Homo sapiens: one gene and its partners. The protein of the gene in region 1 purifies or fractionates together with the protein of each later gene. This does not show direct contact. Each region holds a gene or a part of one and is shown in the gene's direction. Other genes may lie near its edges. The genes, in order: GRK7, SLC35E1, ZYG11B, TIMM21, CPVL, HDLBP and THUMPD3.

The links.
Region 2: the proteins of GRK7 (region 1) and SLC35E1 purify together in Homo sapiens (affinity purification with mass spectrometry; one large-scale study listed by BioGRID and IntAct). This does not show direct contact.
Region 3: the proteins of GRK7 (region 1) and ZYG11B purify together in Homo sapiens (affinity purification with mass spectrometry; one large-scale study listed by BioGRID and IntAct). This does not show direct contact.
Region 4: the proteins of GRK7 (region 1) and TIMM21 purify together in Homo sapiens (affinity purification with mass spectrometry; one large-scale study listed by BioGRID and IntAct). This does not show direct contact.
Region 5: the proteins of GRK7 (region 1) and CPVL purify together in Homo sapiens (affinity purification with mass spectrometry; one large-scale study listed by BioGRID and IntAct). This does not show direct contact.
Region 6: the proteins of GRK7 (region 1) and HDLBP purify together in Homo sapiens (affinity purification with mass spectrometry; one large-scale study listed by BioGRID and IntAct). This does not show direct contact.
Region 7: the proteins of GRK7 (region 1) and THUMPD3 purify together in Homo sapiens (affinity purification with mass spectrometry; one large-scale study listed by BioGRID and IntAct). This does not show direct contact.

What each region holds. Positions count from the first base shown.
Region 1 is NC_000003.12:141,762,079-141,766,207, forward strand, and holds the start of GRK7 (rhodopsin kinase GRK7), read left to right. Parts: upstream 1-1,329; 5' UTR 1,330-3,660; intron 3,661-4,129. UniProt on the Homo sapiens protein: Retina-specific kinase involved in the shutoff of the photoresponse and adaptation to changing light conditions via cone opsin phosphorylation, including rhodopsin (RHO).
Region 2 is NC_000019.10:16,552,377-16,555,415, reverse strand, and holds part of SLC35E1 (solute carrier family 35 member E1), read left to right. Parts: intron 1-18; coding exon 19-264; intron 265-1,506; coding exon 1,507-1,737; 3' UTR 1,738-3,039. UniProt on the Homo sapiens protein: Putative transporter.
Region 3 is NC_000001.11:52,764,453-52,767,952, forward strand, and holds part of ZYG11B (protein zyg-11 homolog B), read left to right. Parts: intron 1-3,500. UniProt on the Homo sapiens protein: Serves as substrate adapter subunit in the E3 ubiquitin ligase complex ZYG11B-CUL2-Elongin BC. Acts to target substrates bearing N-terminal degrons for proteasomal degradation with the first four residues of substrates being the key recognition elements.
Region 4 is NC_000018.10:74,158,523-74,161,031, forward strand, and holds the end of TIMM21 (mitochondrial import inner membrane translocase subunit Tim21 precursor), read left to right. Parts: 3' UTR 1-2,009; downstream 2,010-2,509. UniProt on the Homo sapiens protein: Participates in the translocation of transit peptide-containing proteins across the mitochondrial inner membrane.
Region 5 is NC_000007.14:29,000,038-29,003,537, reverse strand, and holds part of CPVL (probable serine carboxypeptidase CPVL isoform b precursor), read left to right. Parts: intron 1-2,153; exon of another isoform or gene 2,154-2,209; intron 2,210-2,482; exon of another isoform or gene 2,483-2,569; intron 2,570-3,500. UniProt on the Homo sapiens protein: May be involved in the digestion of phagocytosed particles in the lysosome, participation in an inflammatory protease cascade, and trimming of peptides for antigen presentation.
Region 6 is NC_000002.12:241,305,673-241,309,172, reverse strand, and holds part of HDLBP (vigilin), read left to right. Parts: intron 1-3,500. UniProt on the Homo sapiens protein: Appears to play a role in cell sterol metabolism. It may function to protect cells from over-accumulation of cholesterol.
Region 7 is NC_000003.12:9,383,554-9,387,053, forward strand, and holds the end of THUMPD3 (tRNA (guanine(6)-N(2))-methyltransferase THUMP3), read left to right. Parts: intron 1-658; coding exon 659-782; intron 783-970; coding exon 971-1,135; coding exon of another isoform or gene 1,136-1,179; 3' UTR 1,180-3,238; downstream 3,239-3,500. UniProt on the Homo sapiens protein: Catalytic subunit of the THUMPD3-TRM112 methyltransferase complex, that specifically mediates the S-adenosyl-L-methionine-dependent N(2)-methylation of guanosine nucleotide at position 6 (m2G6) in tRNAs.

The sequences.
Region 1 (4,129 bases):
GAGTAATTTGATTGTCTGAAGCCTTCTTCTCTCAACTCGTCAAAGTCATTCTCCATCCAGCTTTGTTCCATTGCTGGTGAGGAACTGCGTTCCTTTGGAGGAGGAGAGGCGCTCTGCGTTTTAGAGTTTCCAGTTTTTCTGTTCTGTTTTATCCCCATCTTTGTGGTTTTATCTACTTTTGGTCTTGATGATGGTGATGTACAGATGGGTTTTCGGTGTGGATGTCCTTTCTGTTTGTTAGTTTTCCTTCTAACAGACAGGACCCTCAGCTGCAGGTCTGTTGGAATACCCTGCCGTGTGAGGTGTCAGTGTGCCCCTGCTGGGGGGTGCCTCCCAGTTAGGCTGCTCGGGGGTCAGGGGTCAGGGACCCACTTGAGGAGGCAGTCTGCCCGTTCTCAGATCTCCAGCTGCCTGCTGGGAGAACCACTGCTCTCTTCAAAGCTGTCAGACAGGGACATTTAAGTCTGCAGAGGTTACTGCTGTCTTTTTGTTTGTCTGTGCCCTGCCCCCAGAGCTGGAGCCTACGGAGGCAGGCAGGCCTCCTTGAGCTGTGGTGGGCTCCACCCAGTTGGAGCTTCCCGGCTGCTTTGTTTACCTAAGCAAGCCTGGGCAATGGCGGGCGCCCCTCCCCCAGCCTCGCTGCCGCCTTGCAGTTTGATCTCAGACTGCTGTGCTAGCAATCAGCGAGATTCCGTGGGGAGATTCCGTGGGGTAGGACCCTCCGAGCCAGGTGAGGGATATAATCTCGTGGTGTGCCGTTCTTTAAGCCGGTCTGAAAAGCGCAATATTCGGGTGGGAGTGACCCGATTTTCCAGGTGCGTCCGTCACTCCTTTCTTTGACTTGGAAAGGGAACTCCCTGACCCCTTGCGCTTCCCAGGTGAGGCAATGCCTCGCCCTGCTTCGGCTCGCGCCCGGTGCGCGCACCCACTGGCCTGCGCCCACTGTCTGGCACTCCCTAGTGAGATGAACCCAGTACCTCAGATGGAAATGCAGAAATCACCCGTCTTCTGTGTCGCTCACGCTGGGAGCTGTAGACCGGAGCTGTTCCTATTCGGCCATCTTGGCTCCTCCTCCAGATCTTCTTAAGGATGAAAAATATGGGCTTGGATTCTTCCCATACCTCATGCTTCAAATAGCCGTTGATGACCCTGAAGCCATAGTGCTGTGTTTCGGTCAAACAACAGCCCAGAACTGAAGTTTTGTGAGGGCATAAGGCACCTAATAAAGCATAGGAGCTCTGGAGTCCTCCCAACTTCACCATTCCTTGCTGTTAGGTCCTTAAGGTGAATGCAAAGTGAAAGGAGCAACTTTCAAAGTTCTTGCTGTAGCTTCCACCCTTAGCTCTCAAACCCACTAACTAACCCAGCAAAGTCTGGGGGGCCTCAGATCAGCCCAACCCTCTGCCAGCTCCACCTTCACAGACGAGGAACCAGGGCCCCAGTGCTGTGCCTAAGACCTCCTTCAACTTAGCAGTAGCCCAGTGGAAGCTGCAGGATCCCGGATCCAGATCCAGTGTGCGTGGCAAGGCCAGCACCCCTCCCTGCCCCCAACACTGTCCACCACCATCTGCTTTGAGTCCAGCAATCTCATCCTGCCCTTTATCCTAGTTAGATACCTCAACACAAGAAACCCAGTTTTCCAGCTCAACTCACATTCTCCTAACTCTAATTCCAAGTAGTTCTTTACATTCCCTTTTATTCCTGCAACTCCCACCCCTTCCTGACTTCTGAAACTTGTCCTCTGTGCCCTCCAATATTTACACCAACAAAATTTCCTCCGTCCTCTTCCCTTCCCTACAAATTCCCTCCATTTTGTTTTCCCTAAAACCTGGTTCTCCCCCAAGGACACTGTTTCTTCTGCAACACTTCTGCTCCCCTCATCCAACTGGACCTGGCAACATGCAAGACGTCTTCATTTCTCTTCATTGCTGCTCTCCTTCCTTCCCTAAAAACACCCAGCTTTGAGTCTCATGTGACTGGACTCCAGCAGTCACTGTGTCTTCTTGCAGCCCCACAAATCACTCGCTGAGTTGCTAGCTCCCAGCTCTCCATCACTACTCTTGATAATTCTTGGTGATTTCAATACCCACATGGCTGATGCTTCTCATACCCTGGCCTCTCCATCCCCTGATCTCATCTCTTCCAGTGATGTGCTCTCCACCCCTGCCTTGACTGCCACTCACTCCAGTGGTCACACCCTTAAGCAAGACTCCTCAAGAGTAGCTTACACTAGCTGCCTCCAATTCATTGATTCTCTGTTGAACTGACTCTCATAAGGTTTTCATCCCACTACTTCATAGAAACTGCTCTTGTCAAGCATCTGCGTGACCTCCAAGTTGTTAAATTCACTGACCAATTCTCAGTCCTTATCCCACTGACCTCTCAGCAGCATTTGCCGTAGTAATCACTGTTTTCTCCTTGACACTCTTTCTTCCCTTGATATCCAGGATCCACATTCTGTCTCTCCTAATACCCCACTGCCCTCACCTCCTCAAACTCTAGGGCTCAGTCCTTAGATTTCTCTGCCCTCACCCCAGAGTGATCACACCCAGTCCTGTGGCTCTAAAGGCCATTTATATCTGGGGTGACTCCCAGTGAGTATCTCCAGCCCAGCCCTCTCCTGTGGGTTCCAGACCCATAGATCTTGTAGACTACTCAAGACCTCAGTTTGGCTGTCTCCCTGGCAGGTCAAATTTAACAGGTACAAGACTGAGCTCTTGATCTTCCCCACACCCTGCTCCTCCAGAGGATTTCCCACCCTGTTTACCAGAAATTCATCCTTCCAGTTACTCAGGCCCAAAACCTTGGAATCACCCTTGCTCCTTTTCTGTCACACCCACAATCCATCCATAAGCAAACTATCTTCCCCCTCCCCTGATTTCTCACCAGGGTTACTGCAGCAGCCTCCAGACTGGTTTTTCTGTTTTAACCCTTGCCCCTTCTGTCTGTGATCCTGTTAAAATGTCCATCTGATTGTTGAAAACTTCCAGTGGCTTTCCATCTCACTCAGAAGGAAAACCTAAGTTCTTGCAGTGATCAGTACTGCCTCACTGGTCTGCTCTGTTTCCTCTCTGAGGACATTTCCTGCTGCGGGCCCCTCACTCTGGGCCACCCACACTGACTTTCTTGCTGTTTCTCAAGCTCACCAGGATTTGAGCCAGCTGTTCCTTCTCCCTGAAGTGCTCTACCCTCAGGCAGTCACATGGCTCACGCCCTTACCTTCAGGAGGTCTTGACTCTCATCATTTTCTCAATTCAGTCTTGCCTGACCACCCTATTTAAAAGTGAAGCCTTCTCCCTGGTGTATCTCAGCACTTCCCTTCTCCTTCCCTGCTTGATTTTTCTTCACAGCACTTACCACCATCTGTGGTGGGTTGGAAAACATGGCCACAGTATTTTACAGCTACTCCTATCAACCTGGGCTAGGCTTGTGACCAGTAGAATGTGGCAGAAGTTAACGGTGTATCAGCTCCAGAGCCTGGAACTGAAGAGATCTTGCAGCTTCTGCCTTCACCCTTTTGGAAAACTGCTCTGAGGCCATCATGCTTTGAGGAAGCCCAGGAGGAAACACTGCAGAGAGGCTCAACCACCCCAGCTCTCCCAGCTGAGCTCAGCCACCCACCGATCCCCCAGCTGAATGCAACCATAAGAGTGAGTCCAGGTGAGACCAGCAAAGAGCTGCCCAATCAAAGCAAATCTGTATATTTGTGGGATAAGTGCATAGAATGAATAGACAAATGAAACATAGGCCAGAGCTTTGTGTGGATTTTAGTTAATATGACTTAGTACTCAGTACTACTTACGAATTCTCTTTTATACATCAAAGTCTTCACTTGCAATGTGCTATCAGGTAAGAGGTGTTTAAGTGTCACCAGCTGAATCTGGTGTTCCATTTTCTTTACCATAGCGTATATCAAGGGTCAGGCCCACACTGTATATGGAAATAAGGCTTTCATCTCAGTTGCAAATGACTCTAATGTTACTATTGTTTATAAAAGTTGGGGTGTTTAAATATTTTAAAGTATTCTTTAACATAACTCCCTCTACCCCACCAGTGGACATTTAACATTTACACGCTTAACTTAATTTTTTCTTTTTTTTTTTGAGATGGAGTCTCACTCTGTCGTCCA
Region 2 (3,039 bases), on another chromosome or scaffold:
ACCTTCCGGTCTCTGCAGACCTACGTCTACCAGTGGCCCTGGACGCTCCTGCTCCTGGCTGTCAGCGGCTTCTGTAACTTTGCCCAGAATGTTATCGCCTTCAGCATCCTCAACCTCGTTAGCCCCCTGAGCTACTCGGTCGCCAATGCCACCAAAAGAATCATGGTCATCACGGTGTCCCTGATCATGCTGCGCAACCCAGTCACCAGCACCAACGTCCTGGGCATGATGACCGCCATCCTGGGGGTCTTCCTCTATAACAAGGTGAGAGTCTGAGAGGCTGGGCAGGGAAGGAAGCCGGCCCCCCAACACCCAGGAAGTCAGAAAAGGAAGGGCCTCCCGGGCGCTCAAGGCTGGGGTTGTATGTCAGAGCTTTGCCACTGACTGGTTTATGATCTTGGCGTAGCCCCATCCCACTCTGGCTTCCTTTTTCCTGCATAGGCAACCTCAGGTCCTCAAATCATTCCGGCTGTGTCTCAGCTGGGGTTTTCCCTCCCTCCTCTCAAAGGCTCTGTTTAGTGCGGTGTAAGGACATGGGATGGCCAACAGGGAGGGCTTGCCTTCTTTTCCTTTTCTTTTTTTTTTTTTTTTTTTTCGAGATGGAGTCTGGCTCTGTCACCCAGGCTGGATTGCAGTGGCGCTCCATCCCAGCTTACTGCAACCTCCGCCTCCCGGGGTCAAGCGATTCTCCTGCCTCAGCCTCCCGAGTAGCTGGGACTACAGGCGCCTACCACACCTGGCTAATTTTTGTATTTTTAGTAGAGATGGGGTTTCACCATCTTGGCCAGGCCAGCCTCCAACTCCTGACCTCAGTTGATCCACCTGCCTTGGCCTCCCAAAGTGTAGGGATTACAGGCATGAGCCACCACACCTGGCCTCTTCATTTGTTTCTTAACACATGTAGATATGGGGTCTCTCTATTTTGTCCAGTCTGGTCTCCAACTCCTAGCCTCAAGTGATCCTCCCGCCTAGGCCTCCCAAAGCACTTGAACTACAGGCATAAGCCACTGCGCCTGGCCAAGGACTTGTCTTCTGAGTCTGTCCATGCACTGTGGTCTGGTCCATTCAAGTCTGCTTTCCTTGCTCAAGCCCTATGACTTATGCCGGCCCCGGAGGTTAACTGACTTTTTTTTTTTTTTTTTTTTTTTCTGAGACAGCGTCTTGCTCTGTCTCCCAGGCTGGAGTGCAGTGGTATGGTCCCAGCTCACTGCAACCTCCGCCTCCTGGGTTCAAGTGATTCTTGTGCCTCAGAACGCCTGAGTAGCTGGAACTACAGCATGCGCCACCACACCCGGTTAATTTTTTGTATTTTTAGTAGAGACGGGGTTTTGCCATGTTGCCCAGGCTGGTCTCAAACTCCTGAGCTCAGGTGATCCTCCCGCCTCGACCTCCCAAAGTGCTGGGATTACAGGTGTGAGCCACCGCAGCCAGCCAGTTGATTGACTTTGAATTACGAGCTCTTATGCCCCGGGCATGTCCTGTCTCATTGCTCTCTTTCTGGCACAGACCAAGTACGATGCAAACCAGCAAGCCAGGAAGCACCTCCTCCCCGTCACCACAGCAGACCTGAGCAGCAAGGAGCGTCACCGGAGCCCACTGGAGAAGCCCCACAACGGCCTCCTCTTCCCCCAGCACGGGGACTATCAGTACGGCCGCAACAACATCTTAACAGACCACTTCCAATACAGCCGGCAGAGCTACCCAAACTCGTACAGTTTGAACCGCTATGATGTGTAGAGTCCAAAGGACAGGACCAGACTGTTGGTGACTCCTTCCCCGGCCCCCACAGCAGTATCAGAAACTTCTGACAATCAGTGAATGTACAACCCAGCCGAGGGGACGGTGCATAACTCTCCATCAGAAGCCCTGGGGTTCCTGGCCCCCCGTGAGCCGCAGGAGGATGCGTTGCCTGCAGTGCAGACGGCCGTGAGCTCTGGGCAAACCTAAACAGAGACCAGTGTCTCATGCTCTTTCTTCCTGGAGTCTGTCATCTGAGGGCCGTGTCCCTGCGGAGATCTTGGCCACGTTGTACCTTTCCATGTGGAATTATTCCCCAAGCAGTGTAGCTCAGAGCACTTGTGTCTGCATTCCAGATAACATTCAGGACCTGTGTGAAAAGCTGGGGTCACTGTGGCTGTAGACCATGAACTGGCAGTGGGGGTGTCCAGGGCGGTGCTTGAGAACGTCAGACTGGCTAGTTTAATTCCCTGGCGCAGATACGCATAGGACCAACAGGGTCACCAAGCAGACAGGGAGCCCGCGAGAATCATTCAAAACATCCCCAGCCACAGAGATGGATCCAGTTTCCTGGTCATCCCCTTAGCAGTTCACAAGTTCCTGGCAAATGTTCCAAAGCAAAAAGCGATTGCAATTAGCATCCAGTTCCTGCAGCCTGGTGCTCTGCCCTGCACGTCAGGGTTGGCATCCACCCAGATCCAGATGGAAGGGAAACTTCTCTCTTCTCCTTTGCCTCCTCTTCCCTCACCAGAGCAGGGCGCTTCTCTTGGGGTGGTGAGAAGGATCTTCGAGAAATCGTGTTCAGTATTTCAAGCTCTATTTCTGTGGCACATGTCTTTTGAGAGGCATCTTCACCTCTTCTGTGATGACTTGGTATGTTGTTTGGTAGAGAGATCTTGATTTTCGGAGGATCTTGCATTTTTCTAGGGAATATTTTGTAGTTGTGTGTGTGTGTTTTTGCCTTGGTCCCCATTATGGGATGCATTAGGACTGGCCTATGCATCGAAAATCTTTTTGTTTGTAAACGTTTAAAAACAAAGTTCCCCGGCCAGGCACAGTGGCTCACACCTGTAATCCCAGCACTTTGGGAGGCCAAGATGGGCGGATCACGAGGTCAGGAGTTCGAGACCAGCCTGGCCAACATAGTGAAACCCCATCTCTACTAAAAATACAGAAATTAGCCGGGCATGGTGTCGCGTGCCTGTAGTCCCAGCTCCTCAGGCTGCTGAGGCAGGCGAATTGCTTGAACCTGGGAGGCAGAAGTTGTGGTGAGCCGAGATTGTGCACTCCAGCCTGGGTAAC
Region 3 (3,500 bases), on another chromosome or scaffold:
GAAAAGAGCATGAGTTCTATAAATCGGTCCTAGGTCTGAGTCCTGGTTCCAACATTAATTTGCTCTTTGACCCTGGATAAGTTACTCTGCAAGTCTAAGATTCCTCATCTGTAAAGTGTTGATAATTATAACTCCCTCACAGGGATTACTGTGAATATTTAAATAAGACAATGAATGCAACATGAATCTTGCTTTCATGGAGCGTATAGTCCAGTGGGAGACACAATTAGGAAGTAAACATATAGAATTACAGCTTGTGCCAGGTTCTCTGAGGGAAAAAGAACACTGTTCTCTTAAGAAGAATAATAAAGGAAGGGAGATGTTTTAACTTGGATGATCAGAGAAAGCTTCTAAAGTGGTGATACTAGACTGAGACCTGAATGACAAGGAGGGAAGTCAGTAACATAAAGGCGGGCTCCTCGGCACTGCCCAGGAGTTCTGGAGTATTTCCCCAGTAAACTAGTGTTCCTAACAGTAGTTTCAGATGTTCTTTGCTCTTCTCAGACTTTCTACCATTTATCTTAGGAAGAAAATTGAAGCCATCAGATAAAATTCCCTTAACTCCATGTAAACCACTGCTTCCAATTTTTCTGAGTGATCTTTTTTTTTTTTTTAATAGAGATGGAGTCGCACTATGTTGGCCAGGTTGGTCTTGAACCCCTGGCCTCAAGGAGTCCTCCTGCCTTGGCCTCCCAAAGTGCTAGGATTATAGGCGTGAGCCACCACATCCAGCCTATCTTTTTTTTTAATTAAAAAAAATTATTTTTTGAGACAAGGTCTGATTCTGTTTCCCAGGCTGGAGTGTAGTGGCATGATCATAGCTCACTGCAGCCTTGAACTCCTGGACTCAAGCAGTCCTCCTGCCTCAGCCTCCTAAGTAGCTGAGATCACAGGTGCATGCCACCAACATCTGACTAATTTTTAAAAATTTGTAATGGAGATGATGTCTTTCTATGTTGTGCAGGCTGGTCTTGAACCCCTGGGCTCAAAGCAGTCCTCCCACCTCAGCCTCCCAATTACAGGAATGAGCCACCACACTCAGTTTTTTGTTTTTTGTTTTTTGTTTTTTCCCAGTCAGGGTCTTACTCTGTCACCCAAGCTAGAGTGCAATCATAGCTTACTATAATCTCAAACTCCTGGGCTCAAGCGACCCTTCGACCTCAGCCTCCCGACTAGCTAGCTAGGACTACAGGTATGTACCACCATGCCCGACTAATTAAAATTTTTTGTTGTTGGGATGGAGTCTTGCAATGTTGCCCAGGCTGGTCTCAAACTCCTGGCCTCGGGTAATCCTCTTGTCTCATCCTCCCAAAGTACTGGGATTATAAGCATGAGCCACTGTGCCTGCTCATTATTTCTTTAAGTACTTTTTCAGCCACACTGTCTTTCTCCTGTCCTTGAGATATTCCAGTGACACAAATATAGCTTTAGGTTTTTGGTTTTGGTTTTTTTCCCATTCTGTTCTTGTTATTTAAATTAGGTAATTTATGTTGTTTTATCTTCTAGTTCACCAGTCTTTTTTCTCTGTTCTCTATTTTACTGTTGACCTCAAGCATTATTATATTTTTCACTTCTAAAATTTTTATTTGATTCTTCTTTATATCTTCTCTTGCCTTGCTGAGTCTGTTTTCATTTTTTTCTTTTTTTCCTTATTAAATTTTTTTTAAATTTTTTTTTTTTTTTTGAGATGGAGAATCTTGCTGTGTCGCCCAGGCTGGAGTGCAGTGGTGCGATCTTGGCTCACTGCAACCCCTGTCTCCCAGGTTCAAGTGATTCTTCTGTCTCAACCTCCTGGGTAGCTGGGACTACAGGCGTGTGCCACCATGCCCAGCTAATTTTTGTATTTTTAGTAGAGATGGGGTTTCGTCATGTTGGTCAGGCTGGTCGCGAACTCCTGACCTCATGATCTGCCTGCCTTGGCCTCCCAAAGTGCCACCGCGCCTGGTCTGTTACTCATTTTTTTTCAAGCATATTTGTTTACTTTTGAAAATTTAATTGCATTTTTTTATGGCTCCTTTAAAATCGTTGTCAAATAATTTTAACATTTCTGTTACCTTACTGTTGGCATATATTGATTATCTCTTTTTGAGTTTGAAGTCTTACTGGTTCTTAGTATGATTCAGAGTAATTTTTTATTGAAACCAGGACATTTTAGGTGATATGAGACTTTTCTGTTTTAGTTTGAGTCACTGACGTCACTCCAGCAGTGGAAGGTAGGAGCACTGCCTTGTTACTGCCAGATTGGGGTTAATGTTCTTTGTAAAAATTTTTATAGGCCAGGCACAGTGGCTCACGCCTGTAATCCCAGCACTTTGGGAGGCCGAGGCGGGCGGATCACGAGGTCAGGAGATCAAGACCATCCTGGCTAACACGGTGAAACCCCGTCTCTACTAAAAATACAAAAAATTAGCTGGGCATGGCAGCGTGTGCCTGTAGTCCCAGCTACTCCAGAGGCTGAGGCGGGAGAATGGTGTGAACCCGGGAGGTAGAGCTTGCAGTGAGCCCAGATCGCGCCACTGCACTCCAGCCTGGGTGAAAAGCGAGACTCCGTCTCAAAAAAAAAAAAATTATTTTATTTTATTTATTTTATGTTATTTTATTTTATGTTATTTTTATTTTTTATGTTATTTTATGTTATATTATTTTGTTATGTTTTATGTTGTTATTTTATTTTATTTTGTTATTTTATGTTGTTTTGTTATTTTATTTTATGTTATGTTATTTTGTTACGTTATGTTATTTTATTTTATTTTGTTATTTTATGTTATTTTATTTTGTTATTTTATTTTATGTTGTTATTTTATGTTATTTTATTTTGTTATTTTATTTTATGTTATGTTGTTATTTTATTTTATGTTATGTTATATTTGAGGTGGAGTTTCGCTCTTGTTGCCCAAGCCGGAGTGCAATGGTGCGATCTCAACTCACTGCAACCTCCGTCGCCTGGGATCAAGCGATTCCCCTGCTTCAGCCTCCCAAGTAGCTGAGATTACAGGCAGGCACCATCAGGCCTGGCTAATTTTTTGTGTTTTAGTAGAGACGGGGTTTCACCATGTTGGCCAAGATGGTCTCGATCTCCTGACCTTGTGATCCATCCGCCTCGGCCTCCCAAAGTGCTGGGATTACAGGTGTGAGCCACTATGCCCAGCCAGATTAGGGTTAATGTTCTTTCTGGTTCCCCACTTGGCTTCTCTTGACACCCAAGGTGCAGGGCTATGCAGAGGTTGGAATTCTGACTCCCCACTAGGATTCTATTGATACTTCCCTAAATGAGAGGGGTATGGGTATGTCATTTCTGCTTCCCAGTTGGCTTCTACTGACACCATGTTGGGAGGAGGTGGCCTCATTACTGTTGGGCAGTTGTGAAAGTCCTGACTTTCCACTAGACTTCCTATGACAGCACCCCAGCAGGGAAGCAGGTAGAGAACTTCATCGCTGCTTGATGAGTGTTGAAGTTCAGGCTCCCCAGAAGGTATCTACTAACATCGTGGTGGGGGATA
Region 4 (2,509 bases), on another chromosome or scaffold:
TCCGTTCTTCACAGCTGCCTTCCAGAATGTGTTCAAAAGAAAGACAAGAAGGAGTGTATGGCTTATAAAGTGAATCTAATACAGTATTTGTTGCATTTAAACAAACTAGACATTTTCTTACGGAAAAATTATGAAATACAGCATATTTTATGTTCTCCCATTGACTCAATCATGACAATATTTCTGCTTTAACACCATCTTTCATGATTAGAAATGTTTGTTATTGGAAATGTTACACCATGTAAATAAAGGAAATAGATTTTAGTATTGTATTCATTTTATATTATAGAACTGCATAATGTCTGCAGAATAAAATTAAAACTAACAAATATGTCATTAGCAGCTGCCCTCCGCATACTTTGGAATCTGACTTGAGATAAGCATGTGAAAATGGTTGAGGGCCATAGGGAACCAGATGGTAAATACATTCTTCAAAATTGTGTGAGTTTTAGGAATCTGTCTCATATTTCGCGCTTCATGAATTAAGGGCCTAGTACATAGCGGGAAAAGTACACACTCCCAAGTTGGGTAGACCTGGGCACCCACCCCACCTTTTCTAGCAGGTGCGTGGTCAAGTGTCCCTGTTGTGTGGGTTGTTAGGATGGCAGTGTGATGAGAGGTACAAGCCTGGACCATAGAAGGCAGCCATGAAGTGCCCTCATCCCCTTTAGAACTTACTTGCACTGATACTTCTGACTGCCAAAAGAACATGGGAGTGAATGAGAGACATTCAAATACGTGTGTGAGGCCCCTTAAAGAAAAAAAAAAAAAAAAAGGAAATTCTATTTTATTTGAAATATTTGCTGGGGATTTGGAAAAAAGTGACCTTCACTTACAAGATCCTGATTCCATATCTATGTAAGTGCTATGTGCATTGGGAGGGGTCTAGAACCATGTTTATCTGCGGTGGCTTCAGTGTGAGGTATCCCCTCTGATGTGTTTGTTCCTTCTCCCCGAGAACTGTCTGTAGAGGAATTTCTGATGTGTTCTTGAAATTTTGGGATATTCAGGATAGAGAGACCTCCAGGCAATCTATCTCCCCTTTTTACTTTATCTCCCTGCTTAATTTAGTTAGTTTCTTGGTTTGACTGCTTGTTTTAGATGTTTTTAATTATAAAAATTTCCAACATTTAAGGAGTATAGAAAATATAACAGACACTCGTCTCCCTGACGTAACACACTTTGACTGAATGAGGCCTTAACTTAGGCTTTCTCTCCTAATCGTTTTTTCCTTTGCTATAGAATGTTCAGTTTCAGGATTCACTGAAATGTCAACATTTAACAGGCTGAGAAGTTCCACTTGCTATCCTAAACTCAAAAAAGCAGCCCTGCTCTTCAAACAACCTGCTCAAACTGTAGCTTGCTGAAGAAGCCCGGCATCTGAGCTCAGGTGGGGATTTAGCCACCCTCCATGGCCCTGTCATTTGACTTAAGACTGTTTGCTTTTTCTGTATTCATTTTTATGCACCTGCCATTTTACAATATGCTCATGCCCCTTTAAGATCTGAGCTTTTGGCCAGGCGAGGTGGCTCATGCCTATAATCCCAGCACTTTGGGAGGCTGAGGCAGGTCAATCACTGGAGGTCAGGAGTTCAAGACCAGCCTGGCCAACATGGTGAAACCCTATCTACTAAAAATTCAAAAAAAAAAAAATTAACCAGGCACGTTGACACACTCCTGTAATCTCATCTACTCAGGAGACAGGAGAAGCGCTTGAACCCAGGAGGCAGAGGTTGCAGTGAGCCAAGATCATGTCACTGCACTCCAGCATGAGTGACGGAGTGTGACTTCGTCTCAAAAAAAAAAAACAAAAAACAGATCTGAGCTTTTATAATTAGAAATAAAACTAAATTACTTTTTCAAAAGGAAAAACTCTGTACCAATAAGAGATTCTTCTGTATAGCCACAGGAAAATGTGATGTGTAACTCTCTAGATCTCTGTTTTCATTCCCTCTGATGTACCCTACTAAATGTTAAAATTTCTGTGTTTTAAGACCCTCTTTAATCCACTTTGATTGTGGTGTCTCTGTCCATGGGCTTACTCCCACTTTTTCTCTGAATTCTAGGGCACTTATCTGACTCTGCCTGGTATCCCCTTCCGTCATATTTGTGAATTTGCAAATGCTCTGGTCATTTTCCTCCAAGGCCTCTGTCATTCCTCCACACCTGATCAGTGAACTCTTTTCACAACTAACTCTAGAGCAGACTCTCCTGTCACTGTTTGCTCTTCCTCCTTAATGAAGAAATTATATGCAAGGCAAGAGTTTATCAGAAGTTCTGCTTTTAGCCCCGTGAGATTTCCAGCCTAACTACCCTGCAAGCTCCCTTCATAACTATTGTTGATCAATGCTAGTAATACTTTATCCATTTATTTCCATTTGGTAAGCCATTACAATATTACTTCTGTTTCTCTTATTCTCATCCAGAGACAGTTCCCCAATTCCTAATTCATAGATTTCTACTCAGGGTTACACTTACTATTTATTTTATATAGTACCACTCATGTGTT
Region 5 (3,500 bases), on another chromosome or scaffold:
TTCATTCTCCTCTGCATTTTCATGTTTCCATTACGGATAATTTTCCTTCTGTCTGAAGAACAGTCTTTCGTACTTCTTTTAGTGCAGGTCTGCTGACAAAAACCTTTTCCAATTTTTTGTTTCCTTGAAAATATCTTTACAAGGTCTTCATTTCTATACAAGTTCTAGGTTGGCAGATATTTTATTTAAGAACTTTCAAGATATTATTTCACTGTCTTCCAGCTTTCATTGTTTCTGTTGAATAGTCAGTTTTCTTGCTGCTTTGAAGGTACTGAAAGTACTGTTTCCTTTTCTGTGACAGCTTTTAAGATTTTCTCTGTCTTTGCTTTTAGCAAAATGCTATTCTCTCTGTGTGTGTGTGTGTGTGTGTGTGTGTGTGTGTGCACATACACATACTATAGTGTAATATACTATTACTAATATACTATTATGTGTACTATGATGTGGTTAGTTTGCTTTGTGTTTATTCTATCTAGGATTCATAGAGCTTCTCAAAACTGGCTTGGTAACTTTTGTCAATTTTGGAAATTTTTCAGTCAGTATCTCTGAATGTTACTATTTGTTTCTTTTGCCCCATTTCTTCCTTATCATTTTATCCTAAAATTCCAGTTAAACATAAGTTAAATGTTTCATGGTTTCATGTCGTCTTCTTCTTCTTTTTTTTTTTTTTTGAATTTTCATACCTTTATTCTCCATGCTTCAGTCTGGATATCCTCTACTGACCTAACTTCCAGTTCATATAGTGTTTCTTCTGCATGCCTAATCTATTGCTAAAACATCGATCGAGTTCTTAATTTCAATGAACAATGAATGAGTAACTTTTTAGTTAAAGAACTTCCATTTGATTCTCTTGTATATATTCTAATTATCTTGTGAATTATTTTTCTATACCTAACATCTTGCATATTTTGTTCACAGTTACTTTAAAATGTGTACCTGGTAACTCTAATATCTGGATCATTTGTGGTCTCTGTTATCTTTTTTTCTCCTTAAATTTTAGTCATTGCTCTTGTTCTTTGTCATGCCTATTAAATTTTATTAAATGTTGAAGAAAATGTACAAAAAATATATGAAGAAAAATGTTATTTTTCTTCCAAAAGGATTTAATTTTTTCTAGAAGGCATACAGAGTAGAGGCATATCACCTTGATAAAGTTTGGGATTGAGACGATTGATTCAGTGCTTGATTTCAAGGTTTGTGAGGACTAACCTGTTTCTGGTTTGTTATTACTTCCAAGGCATTGTCTTTCACGGATCTGATGGAAAGCCTGCAGTGCTTACCAGTGCTGTCCCTCCTTGACAGGCTTGCAACTCCAATTTTTTGTTGTTGTTGTTTCTTTTGGGGTTTTCTTTGTTTTTGTTTTTTGGTCTCTCAAGCACCGTAAGACTAATGAGCTTTTCATTCTCTTATCTGCCGCTTTTGACTTGGCGTCTTGGTCAGAGAAGCTTAAAAATTGGTGAATTTCCCAAAGGGAAAAGCAGCACAAAATGTTAGGCTCACTTCCTTGTGATTCCCTTTTCTCTACGATCATGGCCTCTCTCAAGGCTTGGTTGCTCTCTGATACCTTTAAACAGCTTATTTTCTTTTTAATTCAGCTTCTATTGTTTTCTGTGGAATAAGATTGGTTTGGTACATGCTATTGTGTCACAGTCAGAAGTGGAAGTCCTAAATTACAAACAGTATTGTTGCAACTGATTAAGATGGTGTACATAGGAAGCCCCTTGGGGATGTTGTAAAGGAGCACCAAAAGTTTTAACTGCTCTAGAATATGTACCATTATGATGGCTACATGTGGGTCTCCTGAAGCACCTAGAAGCTCCTTTTCTCATTCTATTCAATAACCATTTGCTACACCAGAGGTGTACAGTGGGAGACCTCAAGAATCGTTTCCCTGAGTGCTGTTGAAGCAACTCCCAGCCTTGATCTCTGCTGTTTTTTCATTCTTTCGAAAGTGACTTATTGCATTCTTTGTTAGGAAGTGTCTGCTAACAAGCTTTGGCTTGTTTTTTATTCTCGTTCCCAAGTACCTTTTCAATATATTTTTATTTGAATGCTATTTACGTTATTTCTACTTATAGTTAGTGTCTGAAAGCAAACTAAAAGATAAGATTTAGTAAATGTGGAATGGCATAAAAGTAGTGAAAAGAACTTACATGTAAATCAGAAACCACAACAAGCAGATTCTCTTGAGGGTATGCATCTTTCTATACTGGAAAGCAGAAACAATAAACCAATCCTACATATTCTGCCTGCCAAACTTGCAGCTCCCATGTGGCTCTTTTCTCTTTCCTGGTGAGTAGCACCACCTTTGCAAATCTGCCCATGTCAGAAGCCTGAAATGGGGAGGATTTGTTGGGGATGGGTAGAGAAAGTCTCACTTAACCTTTATATCGGATTAATCACTGATTTTATTGGTTCCATCTTACTACCCTCTTCTCCTTCCCCTTCTCCCCATCCCTCCCATGAGCCCACATCCTCTCACCTGATTTGGTAGTCTCCTAATTTGCCTCCTTGTACCAGTATGACTCCCTTCCAAATTAGCCTTCTCCTTAGACATTAAGTCATTTTTCTACAATGCAAACATAAGCATGTCACTACCCTACTTAAAACCCTCTAGGATATATCCAGAATAGGCAAGTCTATAGAGACAGAAAGCAGATTAATGGTTGCCAGGGGCTGATGGGGAGAGGGGGAGTGGGAAGTGATTACTGATGTATATGGGTTTCCTTTGGGGTGGTGAAAATATTCTGCAACAAGATAGTGTGAATATACTAAATGCTACCGAATCATACGCTTTAAAATGGTTAAAGTGGTAATTTTATGTTAAGTGTATTTTACCACAGTTGCTTTTAAAGCCCGATAGGATAAGGTCCACTCATCCCAGCATGTCACTTGGGGCATCACATGGTCCCACTAGCGTTTGCCTGTTCATCTGTCTCTTCTGTTTCCCTCTATTCCTGCATGAATGGGACGACATACAGACTGCTGCATGCGCCCGCAGCTTCACGGCCCCTGCATTTCCACACAGAATTTCCTTTGTCTGCGGTGATCCCTCTGCTGCACGTGCCCACAGTTTCATGCCCCTGCATTTCCATGCCTCCTGCATTTCCACGCCTCCTGCATTTCCACACACAGTTTCCTCTGTCTGCGGTGATCCCTCCACCCCCACCCCACCCACCCACCACTCTCCGTCCAGTGATCTCCTTCAAGACCCCCAAGAAGCTTCCCCTGACACATCTACATCAACAAGCCCACTGTGAACTTCCCTCTCTTTTCTGTCATCTAAACAGGCACAACTGGGAAACCTTTACTGGCAGGTCTTTGTTTCTAGTTCCAGGGAGAATTATATTGTTTTCTAAAAAATAAAGTGGAATGAAGCTTTAAAGTGTTTGTATAACCCTGTTGAAATTCATGACACATTTGTGACCCCCTGGAACATCTGGAACACATGAAGTTAGAGGCTGCAGCTCTAGTGTGGAGGCACCCAAAATAGACAGTTC
Region 6 (3,500 bases), on another chromosome or scaffold:
GTGGAGTGGGGGACACAGTGGCAGTTTGGCATAGTGGGGAGGCCTTGCTGATTGAGCGACAGTTGATTCAAACTTGAGATGAGCAAACAAGCCATGGGCAGCGATCTGGGGAAGAGCGTTATAAGAGGAATGGACAGGAGGTGAAAAGCACGGGGGCAGGACTGTGTTGTGCACGTTAGAGGAATGTGGAACACCAGTTATTAGACCAGTGTGGAGCAGGACCAGAGGGTGTAGGAGACGGGCAGGTCAGGGAAGAAGCCGGGGCTCCTAGCAGTCGGATCTTGATGCCTTTGGAGAGCTGGAGCAGAGTGACCCAGTACTGGTGGTGGATCGTGGTGAAGTGACCATGGGCCACACCATTCACGACATTTCTTACTTTTCCTGTCACCTGTAGGAGGCAAGTATTGTTGTTATCACAGGTCGAGGTAGACCCTGAGGCAAAGGCTAGAGTTAGTGGTTTGGCTCCAGTTTGTGCCTTCAGCTACTTCACTGCTTCCCTAACCTGGCCTTGTCAGTCAGCCTCAGTCTACCATCTACCCAGGTCTGCATACCCCGCAAAACAGTATACACTTTGACGCTTTTCTGCAAGCACAATTACCTTTTGGGGGAGCCCTTCTCTTAAAGCAGAGTAGGTTAATGTTTGTGAATGAAACGGAACTTTGGCAGGCTGAGGTGTCTCAGGTCATCAGCTTACGTTGTCTACTGTGTGACTAATTGAGGCAAAAGATGTCCTTTTTAATAGTATTTTCTCATCACTTTTGCCTGGGTGCCCTTTAGGAATGTTATTTTTGGCATACAACTTGAGTTTCACTTAAATTTATAATTCTTTCTGTTCATTCCTACTGCTCTGTTGCCCAGATGTGGATTTTGCTTTGTCTCACAAGCGTTGCTGAAACACTGGTAGAAAGGTGGACGACGGATTGGTTGTGATTAGTTTGATCTTCACAGTACAGAAATTCAAAAGGTCAATAAGCTCAACAAGATTGCTGTCTCACTGATGATCAGAGTTGCCATTAAAATCGTATTTCCCGCACATCAGGCTGGAAAAAAGAATAAACATGATCATTTTAGTTGTCCTCAAAGGAGAAGAGGACAGGTATTCTGTAATCAGGTGTTGTGAGTGTAACTAGTTAAACTCTTTGGGAGGTGGGCAGTTTTACCTTGGCAATATCTATCAATGCATTGCCTGTCATCATATAATTCCATTTCCAATTCAATTTATCCTGTGGGGGTAGAGGCCCAAGTGAGCAGAGGATGTTCTTTCCAGCATTGTTTATAATCGCAAAAAAAAAAAAAAATTAGTTCAAGGGTCCTATCAGTAGGGGATTTATTAAGGTATGTTTACTCCACTCAACATGTAGTTGTTAACAAATGAGGTAAATTTGTATTTGGTACTCGGAAAGATGGCCATGGTGTCTTTTCAAATGAAAATAAGTGTAGCAGATGGTGAAAGAATGCATGTAAGATCCTATTTTTATTTAAATCATGTATTAAAATTATAATTAAAGTATAATTAAAATTACAGTTTTGAAGATACAGTTTAGAATATATTTTTTGGTAAAGCCTCATGGGGGGGTTGCCAGTTTTTACATTGTTTTGTTGAGTTATCTTTTAGAATATTTTTAAAGCTAAAAAATCAAGTTCCTTGGTAGACCATCACTACAGCAAGCCCACTGCAGTATTAATCTATTAATACTGTCAATGTTAATTAAACCATTATTCGTGTAGCCCCTACCCATCCCATTCCAGTCTCTCAGGAGGCTTAGCTGTATCCCAGAGACCCCAGTGCTATGACCGCAGGTCTCTCCTGGGGCAGGAAGAGGTAAGAAGTGGCTGATGTCAAAGTCAACAGTCAGCAAGTGGCGTGAGCAGTCTCGATGAATTCTTTCAAATAAGCGTTTTTCAGATCCACTCTAGGGCTTGCCTTTTCCCTCTGTTGTAGTCTCAGAAGTTCTTGAGGTAGACCTTGTGAGACCTGCAGCAGTACTTGCTGTCTTAGGTACAGAAGGCAGGATATTGATTATTTCTCCCTGACTCAACAAAGAGTTGAGATGTTTATCCAGGTTAGGATGACACTGCCCCCCTGTCCCCCCCGCCCCCCAAAAAAGAAACAAAAATGAAAGGATGGTGTCTTTGACTGTACTGGGAGTCAGGAGACCTCACTTCAATTTTGGGCTTTTCCTCGTTTTTTTTTTTTTTTTGAATAGGTTCAGAGCTACTCCCTGGACCTGTTCTTATCAGCCTTATGACTTGGGGACTTGGGATACTTTTTTTTTTTTTTTTAATTTATTGAGACAGAGTCTCTCCCTGTCACCCAGGCTGGAGTATGACAGCATGATCTCCGCTCACTGCAACTTCCGCCTCCCGGGTTCAAGCAATTCTCCTGCCTCAGCCTCCTGAGTAGCTGGGACTACAGGCATGCACAATAGTAGAGATAGGGTTTTGCCGTGTTGGCCAGGCTGGTCTCGAATTCCTGACCTCAAATGATCTGCCAGCCTCGGCCTCCCAATGAAGTGCTGTGATAATAGGCATGAGCCACTGCTCCCAGCCTGACTTGGGGTACTTTTTGACCTGTAGGATTTCAGCTCCTTTCTTTTAAAAATAAGAAAGCTGAGGCCAGGCGCAGTGGCTCACGCCTGTAGTCCCAGCACTTTGGGAGGCTGAGGCGGGCAGATCACCTGAGGTCAGGAGTTCGAGACTGGCCTGACCAACATGGAGAAGCCCCGTCTCTACTAAAAATACAAAACTAGCCGGGCGTGGTGGCTCATGCCTGTAATCCCAGCTGTGGGAGGCTGAGGCAGGAGAATTGCCTGAACCTGGGAGGCAGAGGTTGCAGTGAGCCGAGATCACGCCATTGCACTCCAGCCAGGGCAACAAGAACAAGACTCCATCTCAAAAAAAAAAAGCTGAATCTCTGAGTGGGTTTTTCATTTTTCATTTTTTTTTTTAAACAGATGCCTCAGAACCTGGGTAACTCAGTTTATCAGAAATTCAGTTTTCAAGTTTGGAAGGATAACACTTGGAGCTGGTAGTCACTCATAAAACATCTGATTTTGTGATCACGTTTAAGAATCCATGAATGATATAAAAATCCTCACCTATTAAAACTTTTTGGCCGGGCGCGGTGACTCACACCTGTCATCCCAGCACTTTGGGAGGCTGAGGTGGGTGGATCACGAGGTCAGGAGATCGAGACCATCCTGGCTAACACGGTGAGACCCCGTCTCTACTAAAAATACAAAAAATTAGTTGAGCATGGTGGCGGATGCCTGTAGTCCCAGCTACTCGGGAGGCTGAGGCAGGAGAATGGCGTGAACCCGGGAGGCGGAACTTTGCAGTGAGCCGAGATCACGCCACTGCACTCCAGCCTGGGCGACAGAGCGAGACTCCATCTCAAAAAAAAAAAAAAAAACAAATAAACAACTTTGTATTCATTGCTTCCTATATACTAGTCATCACGCTATTTATTTCTAGCAGTGGTTATCACCAGGGTGATTTTT
Region 7 (3,500 bases), about 130 Mb from region 1:
CTTGAATTATATATCCTACACAAAAAGGTGGTAGAAGACTTGGTTCTCATTCTGTTTCTCAGCATAAATGATTCTTTTTTTTTTTTTGGAGACAGAGCCCTGCTCTGTTGCCCAGGCTGGAGTGCAGTGGTATGATCTCGGCTCACTGTAACCTCTGCCTCCCGGGTTCAAGCGATTCTCCTGCCTCACCCTCCTGAGTAGCTCGGATTTCAGGCACATGCCATCATGCCCAGCTTATTTTTGTATTTTTAAAAGACAGGGTTTCACCATATTGGCCAGGCTGGTCTCAAACTCCTGACTTCAGGTGATCTGCCCGCCTCAGCCTCCCAAACTGCTGGGATTACAGGCATGAGCCACCAAAACACCTGGCCTAAATGATTTCTAATCACTTGTTTGGTTTATACAGTTTGACTGCTTATTATACTAAGAGGACAAGTCATATAACTAACACAGTTGTCTAAAAAAAATTTTTTTGATTCAGAATTCTAAGCAGTTTACTAACTCAACTTATTTCATAGACATGTAATGGCAAAGGTCTGGTTTCTAAAACTACAGCTATTTTTCATGCCTCAGGATGCATGAAACTGTTTTTGTTTCATATAGTCCTTCTATTTTGTATCTTTTGCAAGTGTTTGACTCATGAGACCTTCTATTATAGGATGGGATCCAAGAAGAGAAACTGGAACCTTTATCCAGCTTGCCTACGGGAGATGAGCCGTGTCTGCACACCTACCACAGGCCGAGCTGTACTACTTACTCAAGACACAAAATGCTTTACCAAGGTGCTATACACATTAGCTCAAAATCGCAGCCTGTGGCAACTTTGGGATCTTTTTGAGATTTGGGGATGTTTGTTTGGATAAGATTTGTTTTCTCTTCCCCTGAGGTTTCCTATCTTGGCAGTTAAGAATCCTAGTTGATGTAAAAGTAGATTGTCAACCTAATTGTTATTTTTTTTGTGTGTACACAGGCGTTATCTGGAATGCGACACGTATGGCGAAAGGTGGATACAGTCTGGGTGAACGTTGGTGGTCTTCGTGCTGCAGTTTACGTTCTGATACGTACACCTCAAGCTTTTGTTCATCCTTCAGAACAAGACGGAGAAAGAGGAACTCTTTGGCAATGCAAAGAATGAAGATGACTAATAGTACTTGTACTTCCCACCACTGGAAATGTTAGCATAAAAGAACTTGGAGAGGAAAAAAGTATTAACAAAACTGCAGTCTGCACTCTTTAAACCTGTTTAAGGCTCTTCATCCTGGTTAGCAAAAGGTGTGAATGTAATGTGATGGAATTTAAAAGTTTTATGAGACCAGGCACAGTGGCTCACGACTGTAATTCCAGCAGTTTAGGAAGCCGAAGTGTGCAGATCACCTGAGGTCCGGAGACCAGCCTGGCCAACATGGTGAAACCCTGTCTCTACTAGAAATACAAAAATTAGCCAGGTGTGGTGGCGGGCGCCTGTAATCCCAACTACTCAGGAGGCTGAGGCTAGAGAATCACTTGAACCCAGCAGGCGGAGGTTGCGGTGAGTCGAGATCACGCCATTGCACTCCAGCCTGTGCGACAAGAGCGAAACTCTGTCTCAAAAAGATTTTATAAGAAAGCAGAGCTTTTCCTTGAAGCTCTTTTGAAGTGGTAGCTTAATTAGTATTTTGTTGAAAATACTTTAAAGATGCCTAGTGAAAAGCCTACTAAAGTGCTGTGAGATTGGGGTTTAGAACATTTTATTTTCAGGCTTTATGGCCTATTTTCCATTGTGTCAAGTGCAAAACTACCCTGGCCCAAAGGAAGGGCAGAGAACATAATTACATCTTAGGCCACATTTCATTCTTTGCAGCTTTGCTAATCCAGTTGCTCAAGTTCTTTACCTCAACCTGAAGGAATGAAGCATTATTACATTTTGTGAATGGTGTTCAGCCTATAAGACGAAGTCTCACAAGACCTATAGGAAAGTTTACCATCTGCCTTAAATATTAAAATATCCATCTGTTATTCACATTAATACACAGAATGAAAATAGAGGTCTAGGAATTATCAAAGGTACTGCAAAAATACTGTATAGAACTTATTTGTAAATAGCACATACATTGATAGATGGGGTGTGGGACCAACAAACCAAATTAAAAGAAATTGTTTTTCTTTCAGTACACTAAGGTGTGTGTTTTCAAAACCAAACACAAACCTGTCAAGAGTATTTGTTGGCTAGTTTCTTAAAAGGCCAAGAGAAAAAAAATGATATATCTTTGGAAAACTTTTAATTTGGGAGTTATGTGAGTTGTTACTTTCTCCTGGATCACGATTCACATTTAATTGCTTTTCCAGTTGCAACAAGTCCTTCTTGAGAGTTTTGTGGAAAATGGTGCTTCCCTGGAACAAAGAGTAGTTGAGGTTTTTTTGTGGAACTCATCATAGTATTGTTTATTTTGGAGCCTCTGGCTGCAATCAGTATAGATTTTCAGTATCCTATTAGTATTATAATAGTACTCCTCTTAATACTTTCTGATGTCTCCATTGAGAATAAAAGGACACAATACTTTTGAAAGAAGAGTTCACATTAGCAGCACAGCCAGCAATCCTCATCTGGTTTCTCTGATCTCCTACCCCACACTTCATAATGAATGGGAAATAAGATGTTTATGAAGGTTTTATATCCTAGACTGGCCTTTTTACCACTATCAGAATTCACAGCTGCTTTGTTTATGGGCCGAACACAAAACTTTTCACCTGATGGGAGAAACCATTTAAACCTCAAATTAAGCAACCCACAGAACCAGGAAGTTCAAGGACCATGTCTGTTTTCACCACGATGTCTTTCCCCACCCCCCCACCCCCCACTCCACCCCCCACTAAGGGCAGGGTATTGTATCTGCCAGACTGGGTATTTGTTGAACAAGCGAGTATTTTCGCCTATTAGCTTAGTTTTTAAGGAAATCATTTTTTACTTGATTCATCATAGCTTTAATTCTATTACATACTACAATAAAAATTTGACAAGACTGATACAAATATGTAGTGGGCAATAGTTTGCCGTCTTCTTCCCTAGTATGGTGTTTTTCAATCTGGTGACTAGAATAGGCAGTGGGCTATAAGCAGGATTCATAAGGCCTGGAGCTGAGTTATATGTGACACTGCCACCTATTCATTGTGTGACCTTGGTTTTAACCTTCAAAGTGGGTCTCCTGGACTAAAAGAATGTGAAAAGATGGGGAAATAAATCTGTAATCTGAACATGGAATGACTTAGTTACAGACCAGACATATTGTTACTGGGAATGAAAAAGTCAATATATTTGAGGGGAAAAAAATGTAAATAAATATTGAGAAAGATTTTACAAATCTAATTAGGGGAAGATAGTTATCTCCCAATACTAGAGGGTACCAGAGTGCTTTTAAGGGGAACATTTGGTTACCCTTATTTCTTTAAAAAATGGCAGTTTAGGAAATTCTGCCCTAACTGTAGTCCCAATGTCAGATAGGACTCAGGTCTCCACTGCAAGG